Regions from separate parts of the Homo sapiens genome. Here regions 2 and 3 are each linked to region 1. Evidence: fine-mapped expression QTL. A gene starts in region 1. Each other region holds a variant in brackets. All regions are shown on one strand. Distances are from middle to middle.

Evidence for each region. PIP is the estimated chance that this variant, and not a neighbour inherited with it, causes the effect.
Region 2: its variant is the best candidate, but not a certain one, in a credible set for the expression of RNF212 in esophagus muscle (GTEx, PIP 0.76).
Region 3: its variant is the best candidate, but not a certain one, in a credible set for the expression of RNF212 in subcutaneous fat (GTEx, PIP 0.84).

The regions. Positions count from the first base shown.
Region 1 is chr4:1,111,809-1,116,032 of GRCh38, forward strand. It overlaps RNF212 (ring finger protein 212), which reads right to left and starts at 1,756. Exons shown (of 10, transcript NM_001131034.4): 1 at 1,548-1,756. The coding sequence starts at 1,656. It overlaps LOC124900647 (nascent polypeptide-associated complex subunit alpha, muscle-specific form-like), which reads left to right and starts at 1,831. Exons shown (of 3, transcript XM_047416477.1): 1 at 1,831-1,944. LOC105374344 (a long non-coding RNA gene) reads left to right here and starts at 1,831. Exons shown (of 3, transcript NR_134676.1): 1 at 1,831-1,944. It also overlaps the pseudogene TMED11P.
Region 2 is chr4:1,133,330-1,137,553 of GRCh38, forward strand. The region is part of intron 1 of LOC124900647 (nascent polypeptide-associated complex subunit alpha, muscle-specific form-like); the gene reads left to right. Among named protein-coding and RNA genes, the nearest start is that of RNF212, 22 kb to the left of the region's middle. The variant C/T (reference allele first, on the strand shown) is at 1,808.
Region 3 is chr4:1,184,126-1,188,349 of GRCh38, forward strand. All of the region lies in intron 1 of LOC124900647 (nascent polypeptide-associated complex subunit alpha, muscle-specific form-like), which reads left to right. It also overlaps a transcript of SPON2 not described here. Among named protein-coding and RNA genes, the nearest start is that of SPON2, 14 kb to the left of the region's middle. The variant A/G (reference allele first, on the strand shown) is at 2,053.

The DNA of each region.
Region 1 (4,224 bases):
TCTGCAGCCAAATCTGCAAACAACCCAAAGGGCCATGGACAGTGGAAACGATGAGTAACTTGGGGTGTATCCATACAATGGAACACCACACAACAATGAAAGTAGATGAACTACAGTTACATACAAATACAATGATAAACTTTGCTAATCCCACATTTCGGGAGGCCAAGGCCGGTGATTGTTAGAGGACAGGAATTGGAGACCATCCTGGGCAACAAAGGGACCCCATCTCTGTGAAAAATTAAAAAAATCAGGGGTGCGTGGCTGCACATGCCTGTAGCCCCGCTACCCTGGAGGCTGAGGTAGGAGAATCACTTGAGCCTGGGAGGCGGAGGCTGCAGTAAACCGAGATCCCGCCACCGAACTCCAGCCTGGGCGACAAAGCTGAGCTCTGCCTTGAAAGAGGCAAAGAGAAGGAAGGGAGAAAAAGGAAGAAAGATGGGGAGCCACAGAAAGCGGCTTTGCTGTAGGGCTGGTTGTAGGGCTGCATTCACTAAGGCTCCATGGGTCTAAGGCCAACTCCGAGGATGGAGGTCAGCACAGCTGGCGTCCCCTGGGGCTGGAGGGCTGTGAGCCACCGGCACCCAGCTGGCTGCTTTCACGGGGAAGTTCGCTTGGTAAAAGCTCACTGTGTTTTTGCTTTTGTTCTTGCATAAACATCAGTTCAACACAAAATTTTCACAGAAAGAAAAACGCCTCCCTGACAATGCGACTGTCCACTTGACACCAGGGCCCCGCGCTGCCCATGGAATAGGGCCAGAGTCCTCCACTGGCGTTAAGGTTGCCGCCTGCCCGCTTCTCCCCCAGGTCCTCCAGGCGGACCCGCAGCCTGCAAGCCAGAGCCCCCGACTGACAGGACTCGTGGCCCGACCCCTGTGTCCCCCTCATCTTGCATCCCGCTCCCCCCGGCGGCCCCTCCCCTCCACGGCCCCTTCCTGCCTGCGGACCCTCCCCCACGCCCTCCTCCCCTGGCGTCTCCCCTCCCCCCATCTCCTCGGTATCCCCCTTCCCCCCCAAGCCTTGACCCCCCACATCCCCCACCTTGCCCCCCTCCTCTGGCGTCCCCTTCCTCCCTGCAGCCCCCCACCACCTCCGGCGTCCCCTCTTTCCCCACCCTCCCGCAGCCCCTCACTCCCCCGCTCCCTCCCCACCGCTTCTCCAGTGTCCCCCTCTCCCCACGGGCCCCTCATCACGCCCGCGGCCCCCACTCCCCGGTGGCCCCTCCTCCGAATACCCCTACCTCCGCGGCCTCTCACCCCCCCATGCCCCCCCCGCTCCATGCGCCGTTTCTCCCCCTCGGCCCCCCACGCGCCCCCGCGGCCCCTCCACCCCAGGTCCCCCTCCCCTCAGAGTTCCCCTGCTCCTCGCGGCCTCTCCCCTGGCATCCCCCTCCCCCTGCCCCCTCCCCCTTCTCCACGCGCCCTCTCTCCTCCGCAGCCCCCCACGTGCCCCCATGGCCCTCCCACCCAAGTCCCCCATCCCCCGGAGTTCCCTGACCCCCTTGCCGCTCCCCTCCCCTCTCCAGCCTGCGTTCGGGAAGCCCTGACCTTTGCCGAGGCAGGCGTCGCAGTACACGTGCCCGCAGTTGGTGAGGCTGAAGCACGACGTCCTGTGGGGCGGCTGGAAGCAGCGATTACAGAACACCCAGTTGGCCATGCCAGGCGGGCGACCGCAGCGGCGAGGCCGGGCCCACGCGAAGCCCACGCAAGGTTGGGACCAGCCTCCCCGCGCAGGGCCCGAAGGCGGGCAGCTCTGCGCCTGCGCAAAGTCGACGGCAGCCCTGCGCCCGCGCACTGGAGCTCGCGCCCTCCCGCCAACCTCGCGGGTTCTCCCGCAGCACCTGGGAGGGCGCGTGTGACTCGTCTCCCAGGTCGTTTGGGCTGGAGTAGGCGGAGGAACGCACCGCGAGCACCAACGTCCCGCCCCTGTCTTGGCGGTCCTCAGGTGTTTTGTGGAAGCCGGGCCTGGGTGGCGGGCGCGGGGAATGGCGGCTGCGCTGAGGAGGCGTCGCGGCGCGACAGCAGTGGGGGAGGGGGAGGGGGAGCGCCGAGGGCGGGGGATGCGGGCCAGGCCCACCTTGAGGGCCGGGAGCTGGGCCGGAGGCCAGGGCGGCCAGGGTAGTGCGCTGGGCGAGGCAGGGGAGGAGTAGGGGAGAGTGGGCGTGGGGGCCCTGGGGGCCCGGGGAGCGGGATAGGAGGGAGGGAGGGATAAGTGGGTGTGGGAGTTGGGGTGGGAGCGGGAGTGGGGATGTGGGAGTTGGGGTGGGTGTGGGGGCGTGAGGCGGTGGGGGTGGGGTGTGATGAGGCGGTGGGGGTGGGGGGGGCAGTTGGGGGTGGGGGCCAGGCCGCGCTGCACGCTTTGGGACTAGTGTCCAGGTGGCCGCTGGCGCAGAGACCTCAGCACGGGAGGCCTGAGCCTGCTTCCCTCTGAAACGGAAGGCGTAGCTCGGGAAGGACCTCTGCTGCTTCCAGGTTCCAGCATGGGGAAGTGACTTTTTATAAAATTGTCCTCTGCGTGGTTTTGAGAGTTTCCACCCGCTGGGACGCTGCAAAGCTCGGATCGAGAGGCTCAGGCAAGTGCTTGTGCCGGGAGAGCGCAGGGTGAGCGCTCCCGGTAGCTACGGGCCAAGTGACCCCTGCGCCCCGAAAGATGTGAGTAAAATACAGCTGTTTCCAGGGCCTCGTATGAAAACCTTCTTAGTAATTTTATATTGATTACATGTTAACATGATATTTTTGATATATTAGGTTAAATATATATCAGTAGCGTTGATTTTACCCTTTCAAAAAATCCTTTTCAATGTGGAGACTAGAAAACTTAGAATTACGTATGGGCTGGGTGCGGTAGCTCACGCCTGTAATCCCAGCTACTCCGGAGGCTGAGGCAGGAGAATCGCTTGAACGAGGCGGAGGTTGCAGTGAGCCGAAATCACACCACTGCACTCCAGCCTGGGCAACAGAGTGAGACTTCGTCTCAACAACAACAACAGCAAATTAGAATTATGTATGTAGCCCACTTTTATTTCTGTTAGACAGTGCTGATCTCTACCAAGTTTAAAATAGCAAGACCAGCAACGTGGCAAAACCCCGTCTCTACAAAAAATACAAAAATTAGCTGGGTGTGGTGGTGGGCCCCTGGGGTCCCAGCTACTCGGGAGGCTGAGGTGGGAGGATTGCTTGGGCCCTGGAGATCGAGCCTGTGGTGAGCCTGACGGCACCTGTGCAGCAGAGCGAGACTCAGTCTCAAAAATAAGTTTAAGAATAGGATGAGGTGCCTAATCTATCAAATTCAGAAGCTGCATTATAAAAGCATTCTCTCAATGTTATAATGATATAACGTTAATCTCAATCTCTGGTATCTTTGAAATCATAAAAATAATACACATATATGCAGGTATTTTGATTTATTAACTCAAACATTATGCAGATTATTTGTCCTTATTGATAATATTTTAAACAATCTTCTTAGCTATAAAGAAGTCTTTCAGGTACTTCATTTGGAAAATTCCGACTGAGATAAAGATTAATATTTGTGCAAAAGCCCACCATAAAACATTGCTATTTGTATCTTCACTGGTCGTTCGAAAATTTTCTTCACGGTCCTATGCGGAAAAGAAGTAGGTTTAGTGTCATAAAGTACTTAACTCACGATTTTGAGGGGAGGGTTGTTGTGGGCATTCAAGGTATTTAATATTACCCAATTAATATCTTACACCAACGTATCCGTGCAGTCTGCTTTTCTAAACCAGAATCTGTTGCTTAGCCAAGTATAAGAGAGTAAAAATCAACCTTATAAAAGATGGTTTTGTATTTTGGTGTAAAATATCAGGAATTTGACCTATTCGTATATTTTATTTGCTACCATCAGGCAAAGCGAATATTACCCAATAGTGGTAGATTTCATCATTTGAGTCCAGCCTTTATGCCAGGCATTAGGCCAAGCACTTGCATGCCTTATTTGCTTGTCACACCTGTCCTTATCTTCCTGTTAAGGAAACTGAAGCTTAGAGATGACACAGATTACTGACAGGTAGTTGAGATTTAAGCCCATATCTGACCAATATCCACTTAGTGTAGTGACTCAAAAAGCACCTAATGTCATAAGAATAAAATTGTGATTTGGAAAGTGAGCATACGTGAGCCTCTACAAATACATGGGATGCATTTGGAAGCATTTATTCATTCTGCAAGCTCACACCCTGTGCTACTGGGGACTTCGTTAGGC
Region 2 (4,224 bases), 22 kb after region 1:
TTTTGTTCATTTTGGCATTTGGTGAGTGTGTAGTCACATCCCAGTGGGCTTTGCTTTATGTTTTTCCTGATGATTAACAAACTCAAGCACCTTCTCATCCACTTCCTGGCCATTCAGGTCTCCTCTCGTGTGAAGCCTCTTAATCTCCTGCCCATTTTTCTATCCTGTGAATACGGGATAGCCCTCTGTGACTGGTTGGTTGTTTTCAATGTAGACATTATGCACATTTACCTTACATTTATTCTTAGATGTGTGTCATTTTTCATCACCAAAGAGAAACGATTGAAAGGGCAGACACTTCCCCCAAGTCAGCATCTTTAGACACCATGAGTATTAGCAAACGGCCTGTGGTAAGGCCAGGTATCAGCAACACTCCTGGGGTGAGAGCACTTTGCCTTGGCCACAGAGAAGACAGTTGCCGTGACTTGGGCCCACAGGGCTGTAGTGGGCACTGCTGATGACCCCTTGCCCGTAAGGTCCCTTCCTGCTCTCTTAGCCACCCCTGGCTTTGGCATGCTTGACTGCAGCTTGTGGCCTTAAAGGAGGCCTTGGGTGCTGGAGCCATACCCTGCACAGAGGACAGGAAGAGCCTGAGTTGAGGTCTGTGCCTCCTCAGCCTGAGCCAGTGCCAACGAATGGGATGTGAGTACAAATGCCCGGCTCCTTTGCCTGGAGGTGGAACAAGCTGTGGCATATCTTATCCAGATTTTATTTTATTACTGTTTTTTGAGACGGCGTCTTGCTCTGTCACCCAGGTTGGAGTGCAGTGGCGCAATCTCGGCTCACTGCAAGCTCCGCCTCCCAGGTTCACGCCATTCTCTTGCCTCAGCCTCCTGAGTAGCTGGTACTACAGGCGCCCACCACCACGCCCGGCTAATTTTTCTTTGTATTTTTAGAGACAGGGTTTCACCATGTTAACCAGGATGGTCTCAATCTCCTGACCTCGTGATCTGCCCACCTCAGCCTCCCAAAGTCCTGGGATTACAGGCGTGAGCCACCGCATCTGGCCCTTACCCAGATTTTTAAAAAATGTTTTTAAAAAGTGTGGTAAAATATACGTAACAGAAAATTTACCATTTTAACCATTTTAAGTATACAATTCAGTGACATTAAGTATAGCCACGTTGTTGTGTAACCATCACTACCATCCATTTCCAGAATGTTCTCATCTTCCTGAGCAGAAAGTCTACCCACTTAAGCAATAACTCCCATCCCCCTGACTCCCAAGAGTCTCTATGTGGCTCTATGGATTTGACTCCTCTAGGTCCCTTACATGTAGTATCATACGGTATTTCTCTTTTTGTGTCTGGCTTATTTCACTTACCATAATATTTCCAAGGTTCATCTGTGTTGTGGCATGTAACAGAATTTCCTTCATTTTATGGCCGAATGATATTCCATTGTATGGATGGACCACATTTGTTTATCCATGCATTTGTTGATGCACACTTTCTGGCTGCTGTGAGCATTGATACATAAGTATCTCAGTCCCGGCTTTTAGTTGTTCTGAGTATGGATCTAGGAGCAGAATTGCTGGATCTGTAGTTATCTCATGCTCCTGGGCTCCTCCAGGGCTTGGGATGAGTCTGGGGTTAACCTGAAATAATGCCCTTGCTTGGCCTCTTCCTCTCCCTTCTCCTGGGAGCATTTCCTTAACAAATCACTTGCACTTGAATCCTTGGCTCAGGGTCTGCTTTGTGGAGCACCCAACCCAAGACAATCCAGAGAGGCGGTGAGGCCTCCCGTGAAGACAGGAGTGCGGTCTGTTTGCCCCAGTGGAATGATGGATGATGACCCCCATTGAACT[C/T]GCCCTCGTCTTCCCTGTCTAGTCGCTAAGACTTGTACTTTGAAAAATAGACAAAACTACGGGTGTTTTGCAGAATGCTTGAGATCAGGAGACCCTTTGAAAGGGAGCATCCAGGAGCACATGTTTTCGCTGATTAGTTTTGAATTGTAAACATTTTATGAACAGTCTGCTGCATTATGATCACTGTGCTTCATGGTGATTCTCCCTTTTTAACAGTCCCTGCTTTTTATAAGGGACTAACACATTTTTTTTTTTAAAGTGCACCAAGGACTAGAAAGCAAGTGGCTTTAAAGGCTTTAAAACTAAAACTTGGCCAGACACGGTGTCTCACGCCTGTAATCCCAGCACTTTGGGAGGCCAAGGTGGGCAGATCACCTGAGGTCAGGAGTTTGAGACTAGCCTGGCCAACATGGTGAAACCCTGTCTCTAAAAAAATACAAAAATTAGCTGAGCATGGTGGTACATGCCTGTAATCCCAGCTACTAGGGAGGCTGAGGCAGAAGAATTGCTTGAACCCGGGAGGGGGAGGCTGCAGTGAGCCAAGATTGCACCACTGCACTTTAGCCTGGGTGACAGAGCGAGACTCCGTCTCAAAAGAATAAAAAAACAAAAACAAAAAAACTGAAACTCACTAGGCAGGTGGGAAGAACGTACACAGTTACCCACCACCAGCGTCTTCCCTCCCTGTTCCTCTCATCTCTACCTCTTAAATTTACCATCAAAGTTGCTTTATCCGTTTTTTTTTAATTCAAGACAATTGAATTTATTGTTAAGGGACATTAATAAGAAGGACTAAGAGAAACAAGATAAAAAATACAGAATATATTTGGCTTAGGAATTTCCAAGTAAGTTTACAGGGCAAGGATTTCTTACCCCAGGTTTGTCAGCTGGCACCGTTGGCAGATGCGCAAGCCCTGTATCTTCCCCCTCTCAGTGTCCAGTTGGGGAATGCAGGCCTTTCTCTGCTTCTGAAGCAGCTTCTCTTTCTTTCAGAGAGAGCTTTGAGCCAGAGTCAGAGCCACACCTGCGTCTCTAGTAGTCTTAAGCTACCCAGAGGCCAAGGGGAAGAGAGGGTGGGAACCCACACCGACAGAGCACCTGCAACATGTCAAGGGTGTGCCAAGTGCTCTGCTGCTCCAAGGCTCATGTTATCTTCAGTTTACAGAGAAGGAAACAGACTCAGTCACCCAGCTATTAGGCAATTAAGGTGGATGTCATAGCTTGTGTTTTTGTCGACAAAGCCTGTTTTCTATCCTAAGTAGTCTCGGCTACCTCCACTTGGGGAAGATGGAATATCAATCTCTTGCAGACTATTTTTAGTCCTAATGAGAAAAAACAAACTTTTAGGTAGATTTTGATGACTGGCTCTAAGGTCATCTCTCTATCTCTCTTGAACTTACTTTCTTTTTCTTGTTTTTTGTTTGTTTGTTTGTTTGTTTGTTTAGACAGAGTCTCGCTCTGTTGCTCAGGCTGGAGTGCAGTGGCACCATCTCAGCTCACTGCAGCCTCCACCTCCTAGGTTCAAGCAATTCTCCCACCTCAGCCTCCTGAGTAGCTGGGATTACAGTTGCCCACCACCATGCCTGGCTAATTTTTGCATTTTTAGTAGAGATGGGAGTTTCACCATGATGGCCAGGCTGGTCTCAAACTCCTGACCTCAGGTGATCCACCCACCTCGGCATCCCAAAATGCTGGGATTATAGGCGTGAGCCACTGTGCCTGGCCTCATTCTTCTAAATAAGGTTCATAACAGCTGAGTAGGAAACACCCCCTAAACATCTTTTTGTTATTAAAAGCAACATTGATTTGTGTACCCCTGTAACTCCAGTAATATTTATTTTCTTAAAGTCTATTTTATGCTATCTTTTTGTTCTTATTTGCGTGGTATGTCTTTTTCTATTCTTTTACTTTCAGTCTTTCTGATATTTAAAGTTTTCTTTTGGAAATAGCTGTTCTTTATTTTTTGTTTTTTTAATCTAGTCTGACAATCTTGGTCTTTTAATTGGAGTGTTTTGCCCATTTGCACTTCATATAGTGTAAAATATATTTAGGTTTAAGTCTACCATATTGCTATTTGTTTTTCATTTGTCCTATTTGTTCCTTGTTCCTTTATTCCTTTCTTGCCGTTCTTTGGATTAATCAAGTTTTTTTTTTCCATTTTTCTCTATTAGCATATTAGTTATGCATTCTTTTAGTACAGTATTCTTTTATTGATTACCTTGGTAATAATATGCATCCTTGTTGCGATACCTTCTTCCTTAAATTAGCGTATTTACTACTTGCTGAACATTGCAAGAATCTTTCAGCTGTTTAACTGCGTTTACCTGCCTTCCTCCTTTGTGCTATTGTTGTCGTATATTTTACTGCTACATGTGTTATAAACTCCACAAGTCAATATATGTATATGTTCATTTCCC
Region 3 (4,224 bases), 72 kb after region 1:
ACCACCATGCCCAGCTAATTTTTCGTAGAGACCAGGTTTCACCATGTTGCCCAGGCTGGTTTCAAACTCCTGAGCTCAAGTGATTCACCCACCTCAGTCTCCCAAAGTGCTGGGGTTGCAGGCATGAGCCACTGCAACTGGCCAGTAATTACTTTAAATGAAAATGAATTAAACTCTCTACTCAAAAGACAGAGATTGGCAGAATGAATACACACACATAATTCAGCTCAATGCTGTCTACAAAAATCTTGATTTAAATTCAAAGACACAAGTACACTGAAAGGGAAAGGGTGAAAAAAGGGATTCCAAGCAAACCAAAACCGAAAGAGAGCAGCAGAAAAAACCACTCTAAAATTCACATGGGCTCTGAAGGGACCGCAAGTAGCCAAAATAATCTTTAAAAGAAGAACAAAGCTGGGGGACTCACACTTCCTGATTTCAAAATCTCCTACAAAGCTGTAGTAATCAAAATCTAATAATCTAGTAAATTTACTACAAGGTTCCAGTAATCAAGAATACAATAAGCTGGCCAGGCACGGTGGCTCATGCCTGTAATCCCAACACTTTGGGAGGCTGAGGCAGGCAGATCACGAGGTCAGGAGTTCATGACCAGTCTGGTCAACATAGTGAAACCCGTCTCTACTAAACAAAAATTTAAAAAATTAGCCGGGTGTCATAGTGTGTGCCAGTAATCCCAGCTACTTGGGAGGCTGAGGCAGGAGAATCACTTGAACCCAGGAAGCGGAGGTTGCAGTGAGCCGAGATCTTGCCACTGCACTCCAGCTTGGGCGACAGTGCAAGACTCTGTCTCAAAAAAAAAAAAAAAGAATACAATAAGCAATAAGCTATGCTCTATCTTTATGCCAGAAATAAACTCTCACATATATGGCCAGATGATTTTTGACAAAAGTGCCAAGACCATTCAATGGGAGAAATAATAGTCTTATAGTCTTTTTTCTTTTTCTTTTGACACAATCTCACTCTGTTGCTCAGGCTGGAGTGCAGTGGCACAATCTCGGCTCACTGCAGCCTCCGTCTCCTGGGTTCAAGCAATTCTCCTTTAGCCACCCGACTAGTTGGGATTACAGATGTGCACCACCACCCCTGGCTAATTTCTTTTTTGTATTTTTAATACAGACTGGGTTTTGCCACATTGGCCAGGCTGGTCTTGAACTCCTTACCTCAAGTGATCTGCCCACCTCGGCCTCCCAAAGTGCTGGGATTACAGGCATAATCCACCATGCCCGGCCAGAATAGTCTTTTTGACAAATGGTGTTGGAAAACCTGGACATCCACATGCAAAAGAATGAAGTTGGTCAAGCCTGTGATCCCAGCACTTTGGGAGGCTGAGGCGAGCGGATCACCTGAGGTCGGGAGTTCCACACCAGCCTGGCCAACATGGTGAAACCCCGTCTCTATTAAAAATACAAAAATTAGCCAGGCATGGTAGCACATGCCTGTAATCCCAGCCACTTGGGAGGCTGAGGCAGGAGAATTTCTTGAACCTGGGAGGCGGACATTGCAGTGAGCTGAGATCGCGTCACTGCACTCCAGCCTCGGCAGCAGAGTGAGACTCCATCTCCAAAAAAAAAAAGAATGAAGTTGGACCTTTTGCCTGACACTGTATGCAAAAATTAACTCAAAACTGATTAAAGACCTAAATGTAATACCTAAAACTATAAACTTCTTAAAAGAAAACATAAGACAAAGCTGTACAACTTCAGATTTTACAATGATTTATTGGATATGACACCAAAAACATGGGCAACAAAAGAAGAAAATAGACAAAGTGGACGTCATGAAAATTAGAATATTTGTGTATCAAAAGGCAACATCTGGCCGGGCGTGGTGGCTCACGCCTGTAATCCCAGCACTTTGGGAGGCCGAGGCGGGCGGATCACGAGGTCAGGAGATCGAGACCATCCTGGCTAACACGGTGAAACCCCATCTCTACTAAAAATACAAAAAATTAGCCGGGCGTGGTGGTGGGCGCCTGTAGTCCCAGCTACTCAGGAGGCTGAGGCAGGAGAATGGTGTGAACCTGGGAGGCGG[A/G]GCTTGCAGTGAGCTGAGATCGGGCCACTATACTCCAGCTTGGGTGACAGAGCGAGACTCCGTCTCAAAAAAAAAAAAAAAAGGCAACATCAACAGAGTAAAGGGGCAACTCAAAAGATGGGAGAAAATGTTTTTTTTTTTTTTGAGATGGAGTCTCCCTCTGTCACCCAGGCTGGGGTGCAGTGGTGCAATCTTGGCTCACTGCAACTTCTGCCTCTCGGGTTCCAGCAATTCTCCTGTCTCAACCTCCCAAGTAGCTGGGATTGCAGGCGCATGCTGCCGTGCCCGGCTAATTTTTTGTATTTTAGTAGAGACGGGGTTTCACTGTGTTGCCCAGGCTGGTCTCAAACTCCTGAGCTCAGGTGATCCACCCACCTCGGCCTCCCAAAGTGCTGGGATTACAGGTGTGAGCCACTGCACCCAGCTGATGGGAGAAAATATTTACAAATCATTTATCTGATAAGGCACTAATATCCAGAATATATAGAGAACTCCTAAAACTCTAAGACAAAAAACTCAATTTAAAAATGGGCAGAGGACATGAATAGACATCTCTCCAAAGATGATCTACAAATGGTCAATAAGCAAATGAAGAGATTCCCAACATCATTTATTACTGAGGAAATGCAAATTAAAACTATAATAGGACATCACCTCACACCCATTAAGATGACTACTATCAAAAAAACCCCAAAATAACAAGTATTGGCAAGGATGTGGAGAATCTGGAACCCTGGAGAACTATTGATGGGAATATAAAATGACACAGTTCCTATGAAAAACACGATAAGAGTTCCTCAAAAAATTAGAAATAGAATGACTGTATGATCCCACATTGCAACTGTGGGTATATACCCAAAATAATGGAAATCAGGGTCTTGAAAATATATTTGTATACTCAAGTTCATAGCAGCGTTATTCACAACAGCTAAAATGCAAAATCAGTTCAAGTGCCTACCAATGAACAAACAGATAAGCAGAATATTATTTAGCCTTAGAAAGAAAGGAAATTTCACCTTACAAAGGAAGGACATATGCTATAATATGGATCACCCTTGAGGACATTATGCTAAGTAAAATAAGCCAGTCACAAAACACAAAGATTGTGTCATTCCACTTAGATGAGGTACTTAGAATAGTCACATTCAGAGAGACAGACAGCAGATTGGTGGTTGCCAGAAGCTGGGGGGAGCAGAAATGGGGAGTTGTTGTTTAATGAGTGCACAGTTTCAGTTTCACAAGATGAAGTGTTATGGAGATGGATGGGGTGACGTTTATACATGATGAATGTTTTTAATGCCACTCAACTGTACACTTTAAAATGGCTAAGATGGTAAATTTTATGTTATATGTATCTTTTTTTTGAGGCAAAGTCTTGCTCTGTCATTTCTTTTACTATACCTTTTAAGGTGTCTTTTTAGCAGATGCCCTAGGGATTACAATTAATATCTTAATTTATAACAACTGATCTCAGATTAATTATAATTTAATGTCAATGGTATACAAAAACTTTGCGCATATATAGCTCTGTTCCCTCCTCCTCCTCTGTGCTATCACTGTCATATAATTTAAATGTTTACACATCATTTGACTACCAGCACAGATGTCTAATCATCACTCTCTGCAGTTGTCTTTTAAATCAGGTAGGAGAAAAAAGAGCTACACACATAAACTATTTATTTTTACACTGCCCTTTGAAAATGTTTTCCCCAATTTTTTATTGTAATAAAATACACATAACAGGCCAGGCACAGCAACACACGCCTATAATCCCAGCACTTTGGGAGGCCAAGGCTAGTGGATCTCCTGAGGTCAGGAATTTAAGACAAGCCTGGCCAACACGATGAAACACCGTCTCTACTAAAAAATACAAAAAAAAAAAAATTAGCCAGGCGTGGTGGCGGGTGCCTGTAATCCCAGCTACTCAGGAGGCTGAGGCAGGAAAATTGCTTGAAACTGGGAGGAGGAGGTTGCAGTGAGCCAAGATCACACCACTGCCTGGGCAACAGAGCAAGACTCCGTCTCAAAAAAAAAAAAAAAAAAAAAAAAGAAATGACAAATATGTTGAAATGAGACACTAGGAAATATCTATTTAACACCAAAGAAGGCCATATGGAAACAGAGGAACAAAAAAAACCTAAGATATGGAAAACAAATAGCAAATGGTGTGCC